Linked DNA regions of Homo sapiens. The protein of the gene in region 1 purifies or fractionates together with the protein of each later gene. This does not show direct contact. Each region holds a gene or a part of one and is shown on either strand. Other genes may lie near its edges.

Region 1 (3,651 bases):
CTTGCCTCCTATAAGGACACAGAATTAAGAGATGTGGGTAAGTGAAACCTTTGTTCAGTGTTTTCAGGATTTCACTTAGGACATGGCCTGAAACTTTACTGAATACAAGGAAGGTACAGTTTGTGTTTTCCAAGTGCACCACGGTCTCTCGTTGTCACGAAACCAATTTTGAATGACATAATGTCTCATACGTGGTAGAAATGAAAGACTTAATTTAAAATATTAATATAATACAGTTAATGTGTTACTATTTCTACCAATTTCCTAGTTAGTCTAAAATCTTGCATGGTATATTATGTAACTACTAAATTATATATGTGATGAATCAGAAGGAACGTTAAGGGTAGGAGGACTTCAAGATGGCTGACTAAAGACACCCAGAGCTTGCGTCCTCCACAAAGAGCCAAAATAATGAGTAGTGCTCACTTCAGCAGCACATATGGTAAAACTGGAATGATCAGCCCCTGCACAAGGCCGATATGCAAATTCATGAAGTGTTCTATATATTTTATTACTAAAAAATTTAAAAAGCAAATAGATACTCATACATCAAATAGCATCTAAGAGGGATCACTGGAATTCAGCAGAGAAGTGACAGGAAACACCCGAAGCACAAAAGGAGAGCGAAGGGAGGTAGCCCTTCTGGCCGTGATCACCTGAAAGCCGGGAAAGGCTCCTAGTGCTGGGAAAGGGTAAGTGAGAGAGCCCTAGTGGTTTACATTTCCGCTGTGCACTCCAGCAATCAGCCATGAGAGAGGCCCTCGACCCCTGTGGGCCCTGAGACTAGCACAGGGGGCTACCTGGAGTCCATGCAATGGCACTCAGAGAGGGTACTCATGATGGGACCCACACACTTCCTGAGACTCAAGCAGCTATGGCACAGCGCTATTTTGAGAGCTGCACCCCCACCAGACTGCATCTTGCCCTGGGGCCCAACAGCCTTTGCATCTCCAAATCCCTGAAGCCCCATGGACATGCCCCCACATCCACCCAGAGGGTTACAATAATGCCTGTTAGACCCAGCAGTATGGCAGAGTCCCCAGCAATCTAGGCCACATAGTGTCCCATACTCTAGGGAATGGGCCGTGAAGGACACCAGGGAGGCTGCCCCCAGTACAGTACAAAGGGACCCAAAGTGTGTGCACTCACCAGAGCTTGAAAGCTGCCTGTCTGGGGCTGCTGCCTCTAACGGCAATGCTACCTCACCCCCAGCAGCAGGGCCACTGTACACTCATATGTGTTCTCATTCTGAGGAAAGTTTCTCTGCACACTCTGCCACTGCCACCCAAGCACACCTCCTAAAGGCATGGGGAGTCCCTTGCACTGCCCACCACAACCTGTGCCCGTGCACAGGACAAGCCCACTTCACTTGGTACCGCCCATCTCAGTGCCAGAGCATGACACAGAGGGACCTGGGGATTGCTCTACCCTGTGTTGCCTCAGGCACATGTGTGCACAAACAGGAGACCTGACAAAGACCCAGCTTGTGTGCTGCCAGTGCTGGAGCATGCCATCTGGGGACCTAGGGATCACGCCGCCTCTTCCACCACAGCCTACATCTGCCTGCACCACTGAAAGGCCTGAGGACAGGCTCACCTGGCCTGGCGTCATTCCTCCACTACCTAAGCATACCACCTGGGGCTGTTGAGATCACCCTGCCATGTTGGTTGCCCCAGGCATGAGCATGTACCATGCAGGGAGCTTTACAACAGACCCAGAACCCTGCCGCAGGTGCCCAAGCATGCTGTCTGGAGACCTAAGGATTTCCCTGCCCTGATCACCACCACTGGCATCTGTATACTCCTCCTAGTGACCTGAGGACAGGTCCTACAAGCCTGCTGCCACCATCACCGCTGACACTCACCTGCACACACCATGTGGGGGCCTCAGGACTGGCCCACCCAGCCCATCACCACTACCTCTAACACCGGTACACATAGCCTTAAAACCTGAGGGTTATCCTGCCACCACTATTGGGTACTATGCTCAGTACCTGGGTGACAGGATCATTTGCAATGCAAACCTCAGCATCACACAATATACCCAGGTAACAAACCTGCACATGTACCCCCTGAATCTTAAAATAAAAATTGAACAGCTAAAAGTCCTCCTCTTAAGACATTCCATTCCAGTGGGTAGAGATGACAGCTAAATAGAAATATATAAGACACAGTATAAGACAACACCAGAAGGGTAAAGATAGGATGGTATTCCATTCCCTCTCTCTCTCTCTCTCTCTCTCTCTCTATATATATATATATATATATATATTTCTTTATTTATTTTTTGAGACAGAGTCTCATTCTGTCACCCAGGCTAGAGTGTAGTGGCACAATCCCAGCTCACTACAACCTCTGGCTCCTGGGTTCAAGTGATTCTCACGCCTCAGCCACCCGAGTAGCTGGGATTACAGGACTGTGCTACCACACCCAGCTAATTTTTATATTTTTAGTAGAGTCAGGTTTTGCCATGCTGGCCAGGCTGGTCTCAAACTCCTGGCCTCATGCTATCTGCCTGCCTCAGCCTCCCAAAGTGCTGGGATTACAGGCATGAGCCACCACGCCCGGCTGGTATTTTAAATAGAGTGGTCAGAGAAGGCCTTTCTCATGATATTAAAACTGAACAGAGACCAGAATAAAGGAAGGGTCAGAAGGTCTTGAGGTGAAAGAGTATTCCAATCAGAAAGAAGAGCATATATAAACTCTAAGACAGAAGCTTCTGTAGTAGACAGAACAATGGTCCTTGAAAGATGTCCACATCCAATTCCCAGGACCTATGAACCTGTTATGTTATATAGCAAGAGATATTAAGGCTGCAGATGCAATTAAGGTCACTAGTCAGCTAAAGAGAGAGTAAGAAGGTCATTCTAGATTATGCAGGAGTGACCAATCCAATCGCAAGGGACCCAAAATGTGGAAAACAGAGGCTTAAGAAGGGTGGCAGATGACTATGGAAGAATGGTTAGAGATGCAATGTAGCTGCTTTTGAAGATGGAGGAAGGGAGACAAGAGCCAAGGAGTGTGGACAGTGCCTAGGGATTGGTAAATTAAAGTGAAGGCTTCTCCCCAAGAACATCTAGACAGGAACAAAGCCCTAGGGACACCCTGATTTTTGTCCAGTGAGATGTGTCAGACTTCAGATCTGAAGAACAGAAAGATAATTGTTTGTTGTTTAATCTGCTAAGTGTGTGGTCACTGGGTGACAGCAACAGGCAATACAGTGTCCTTGGCAGGATGGAGAAACAGCAGGGAGTACAACGTGGCTGGAAAATGGAGATGTAGTCAGAGAGGCAGTAGGGGATGAAGAGCAGATCAAGGGTCTCTAAAAGGCACTTAAAGCAGTTGTAACATTAACACAAATAAGAAGCCATAAAGGCTTTTAAGCTGAGGAATGGCAATCTGACTTACATTCCCTAAGGATCACTTTGGCTGCTATGAGGAAAACAGATGTCAGGGTGGGAAGAGGGGGTGGGGGAGCAGGACAACCAGCAGGAAGGAGGTAAGAATCCAGGAAACAGGTTTGGCCATTTATACCAGGGCAATGGAGTTGGGCAATGGACAGAAGTAAAACAGATGGAAGGGTCACGTACAAGGATGCATCGTTGCTTGGTTCTTACCTGAATTCCCTTCTCTTTGGGTTGCTGTCTCCATG
Region 2 (3,651 bases), on another chromosome or scaffold:
AAGCTCGTCTGGAAACTTGAGGACATCGGGATAGTCATTCTCACACAACTCAGCCAAGAAGTGTAACAACGTCATCTTCTGATCTGTGGACTTGGTGTCTCGAAGCTTAGAGAAAGAGGAGAAACTGTTAAATCCTGACATGTCCAAGATGGCCTCCTGCCAACACTGAACTCATAGAGGCTACAGCCTTCCTTGTGTTGTCCTGCCCTACCTCTTTGGCTCACCTTACAGAGGAAGCTGATATTGAAGCCAAAAGCACCAGCATTTCTGGAGCCAGCATTCATGTAATTTCCAACAAGCAAGGTAATCTCTAGGAGATTGGAAAAGCTCTCACTCTTACGTAACTCCTCACATGCAGCAGTGACAGACACAATCTCTGGCTTGATATTCTCCACTTGCTCGCTGAATTGTAGCTTGAAGAGAATGGCATTGAGGCGAGGCCGCAGTCGGGGCACAGTGCCCATCTAGTAAAGAACACAAGCAGTTCCATTACAGTCAAAAGAGGGGGAAGTCAGAAAAAGATACACGCTTGAGCCTCCTATGGGAGGATCACAGCTCCAGAGCAGGGAGAAGAGAGAGATTAAGACAGGTTCAAAAACAGACAAGCGGCAAGGAGCATATGCCCAGGCTGCTCTCTAGAGGGGAGGGGAATACAGGAGGTGGAAAACCGCTTACTGCCACAGGCCTCACTCACCACCACGCCAAACTGCTCTGACTCAGCCAGGTCATCATATTCATCCTTCAGTTCAGAAAGCATTTTTAACTGCTCTGGCTCTGGCATTTGCTTAATGAGGTTCTGAAAGACAGAAGAGACATCTCAGCTGGAGGGGAATTCGCTAACAACTCAAGCCTAAACAACTTTTACTCTGTTGTCAGTCCCACACTCTGCTCAAGGACCATACAGAAAGAAACATATGGTGGGAGAAGAGAGGCAGCTACTGAGATGGGGGTACTTTTGCAAAATATACCAGAAGTAATCTGACCACCAGAGAAAAGGCAGTTTCTCAAAGCCAGCATTCATAAGTCAGCAATGCTGGAGGAGGATCCTCTTCATCTACACAGAGATGAGGCCAGTGCCCAGCGACACAGAAGAGCCTGCTCCAGCAGAACCACCTTACTCCTTACCTGGATCATAGACTCAGTCAGAACAGCCTCATTCACCTCCAGGATGACATTCTTAATCTCTTGATAGGGCATGCGGAAGGAACCCAAAAAGATTGCTGCCAGAAAATGAGATATTAAGACATGTTCTTCTCGGTCTGTTCCCGCTTCCAACCCATCCTGCAAACCTATGCTGGATAATCTTCCTAACAGGGCTCTTTTAGGCCAGGCACAGTGGCTCATGCCTGTAATCCCAGCACTTCGGGAGGCCAAGGTGGGCGGATCGCTTGAGCCCCAGAGTTTGAGACCAGCCTAGGCAACATGGGGAAACCTCATCTCCACAAAAAATACAAAAACTAGCCAGGCGTGGTGGTGTGCACCTGTAGTCCCAGCTGCTCGGCAGGCTGAGGTGGGAGGATCACCTGAGCCCAGGAGGTCAAGGTTGCAGTGAGCTGTGACCGCACCACTGCACTCCAGCCTGAGCAACAGAGCGAGACCCGTCTCAAAAAAGTATATATACGTCAAAGACTTTCACCCCACTCTACTTTAGTTCCCCACTCTCAGGACGTGATCCTCAAAGCTGCCTTGACCTTAAACCACCATATCCTATTCCCTAACAAATACATCCTGTTTTTTCAACTCTCCCTTTCTAATCTCTCACTTGACTCTTCAGCCTTATCAGGACCTCTCTTTCCAGTCTCCTGACCATTCTGTTTTCACTGATATATCAGTTCCACTCTGCCTTTCCTATTTCATTAGGAGCCTCTAAACCATCAGTTCATTTGCTCTCTACTATGACTCCCATTAGTATTATTACTCCTACTATTACCTTTCTTTTGCTTCCTTCTCCTTCTGGGTCCCTGGTCAGTCTAGCCATTTCATTTCTCTACTCTGACACCTAGGCTGATGCGGACTGGAGTCTATGAATTTGCAGTAGCACCAATGATAACTGGGGCCTCCGCGCTGTTAGCAATTCTCTTTGTGTGTCCCAATTCCACTTTCTCCCACCCTTCTTGGCAGGTCCTCCAACATATTCCCACTTTCCCCACTGCCCCACCACTTCCCCATTTGTTCCAGGAAGACCCTGCTCCTCTTCACTGAGAAAAATCAAAGCCACTGGTCAAATTACTTGCTCAGCTTTCTCTTATCCTACTTAAAAATAAAGCACTAGGGCTCTTGGTTAGAGCCAGACTAGAAAAGACTCAGATAAGCCTTTTGGAATCGCCTAGAAGAAAACTATACCAACATTTTCGTAAGCTTATAGGAGGCATGTGTTCATATATTTACGTCTAAGTATATATACTCCCATGTACTCATCCTTTCCTCATGTGTCAACAGAAGAGGCAGCCCCACAGACCTTTCCCTTCATCATATATACATAATCAAGTTTTTTAAATCTTACTCAATGTTCCTCTCTAAATTACCAGTTTCTCTTTCTTTCACTTTATAGCAATCTAAACTAGCCTATTCTCTCTCACTTCCACGACTCTGATTTATTCCATAACCACAAAGCCAATGAAAAGATGGCAGCCACTTAGAGAATATACTTTAAGTAAGACACCAACCTGCTACCTCTCACATCCACCTCCCCGAAAAGACAATCTGTTCCTGCTGAATTTTCCTATTTCAGTAAATGGTACCACTTTCCGCAGAGTGACCTAAACCTCAAAGCACCTTCTCCTTTATCCCAAGTCAATCACTAAATTCCATTAATTTTACCTTCTCTCTCTCTCTCTCTTTTTTTTTTTTGAGACAGCATCTCACTCTGTTGCCCAAGCTAGAGTGCAGCAGTGCAGTCATAGCTCATGGCAGCCTGGACCTCCCAGCCTCAAGCAATCCTCCACCCACCTCAGTCTCCCAAGTGGCTGGGACTATAGGCATGCGGCACCACATCTGGCTAGTTTTTTATTTTAATTTATTTATTGCTTGAGATGAGTCTCACTCTGTCACCCAGGCTGGTGTGCAACGGCATGGTGTTGGCTCACTGCAACCTCCGCTTCCCGGGTTCAAGCGATTCTCCTGCCTCAGCCCCATGAGTAGCTGGGATTATAGGCGTGCTCCACCATGCCCAGCTAATTTTTCTATTTTTAGTAGAGACAGCATTTTGCCATGTTGACCAGGCTCGTCTCGAACTCCTGACCTCCAGTGATCCACCTGCCTCAGCCTCCCAAAGTGCTGGGATTACAGCCATGAGCCACTGCACCTAGCCTAATTCTACCATCTTAATATCCTCTCCCTCTCTTATTCTCATCACCTTAGTTTCAGGCCCTGATCACATCTCACCTAGTTTAAAACAATGACATAACTCATCTCTGCCTATAGTCTCCCCTTACCTTAGCAATCCAGCCTCAAAATCACTGCCAAAGCAGCCTTCCTAAAAATTACACAGGATAAAAAGCAATCCAGCCTCAAAATCACTGCCAAAGCAGCCTTCCTAAAAATTACACAGGATAATCTCACTCATTTTCCTGATTTAAACTTTACTCAGTTGTACTCAACTACTTGCAGTTCCTGAACTGCACAATGTTATCTCATGCTCTCATACATGCT

The links.
Region 2: the proteins of ZNF284 (region 1) and DIAPH1 purify together in Homo sapiens (affinity purification with mass spectrometry; one large-scale study listed by BioGRID and IntAct). This does not show direct contact.

Annotation. Positions count from the first base shown.
Region 1 is NC_000019.10:44,082,071-44,085,721, reverse strand, and holds part of ZNF284 (zinc finger protein 284), read right to left. Parts: coding exon 3,617-3,651; intron 9-3,616; coding exon 1-8. UniProt on the Homo sapiens protein: May be involved in transcriptional regulation.
Region 2 is NC_000005.10:141,528,478-141,532,128, forward strand, and holds part of DIAPH1 (protein diaphanous homolog 1), read right to left. Parts: intron 1,221-3,651; coding exon 1,126-1,220; intron 797-1,125; coding exon 695-796; intron 465-694; coding exon 225-464; intron 106-224; coding exon 1-105. UniProt on the Homo sapiens protein: Actin nucleation and elongation factor required for the assembly of F-actin structures, such as actin cables and stress fibers. Binds to the barbed end of the actin filament and slows down actin polymerization and depolymerization.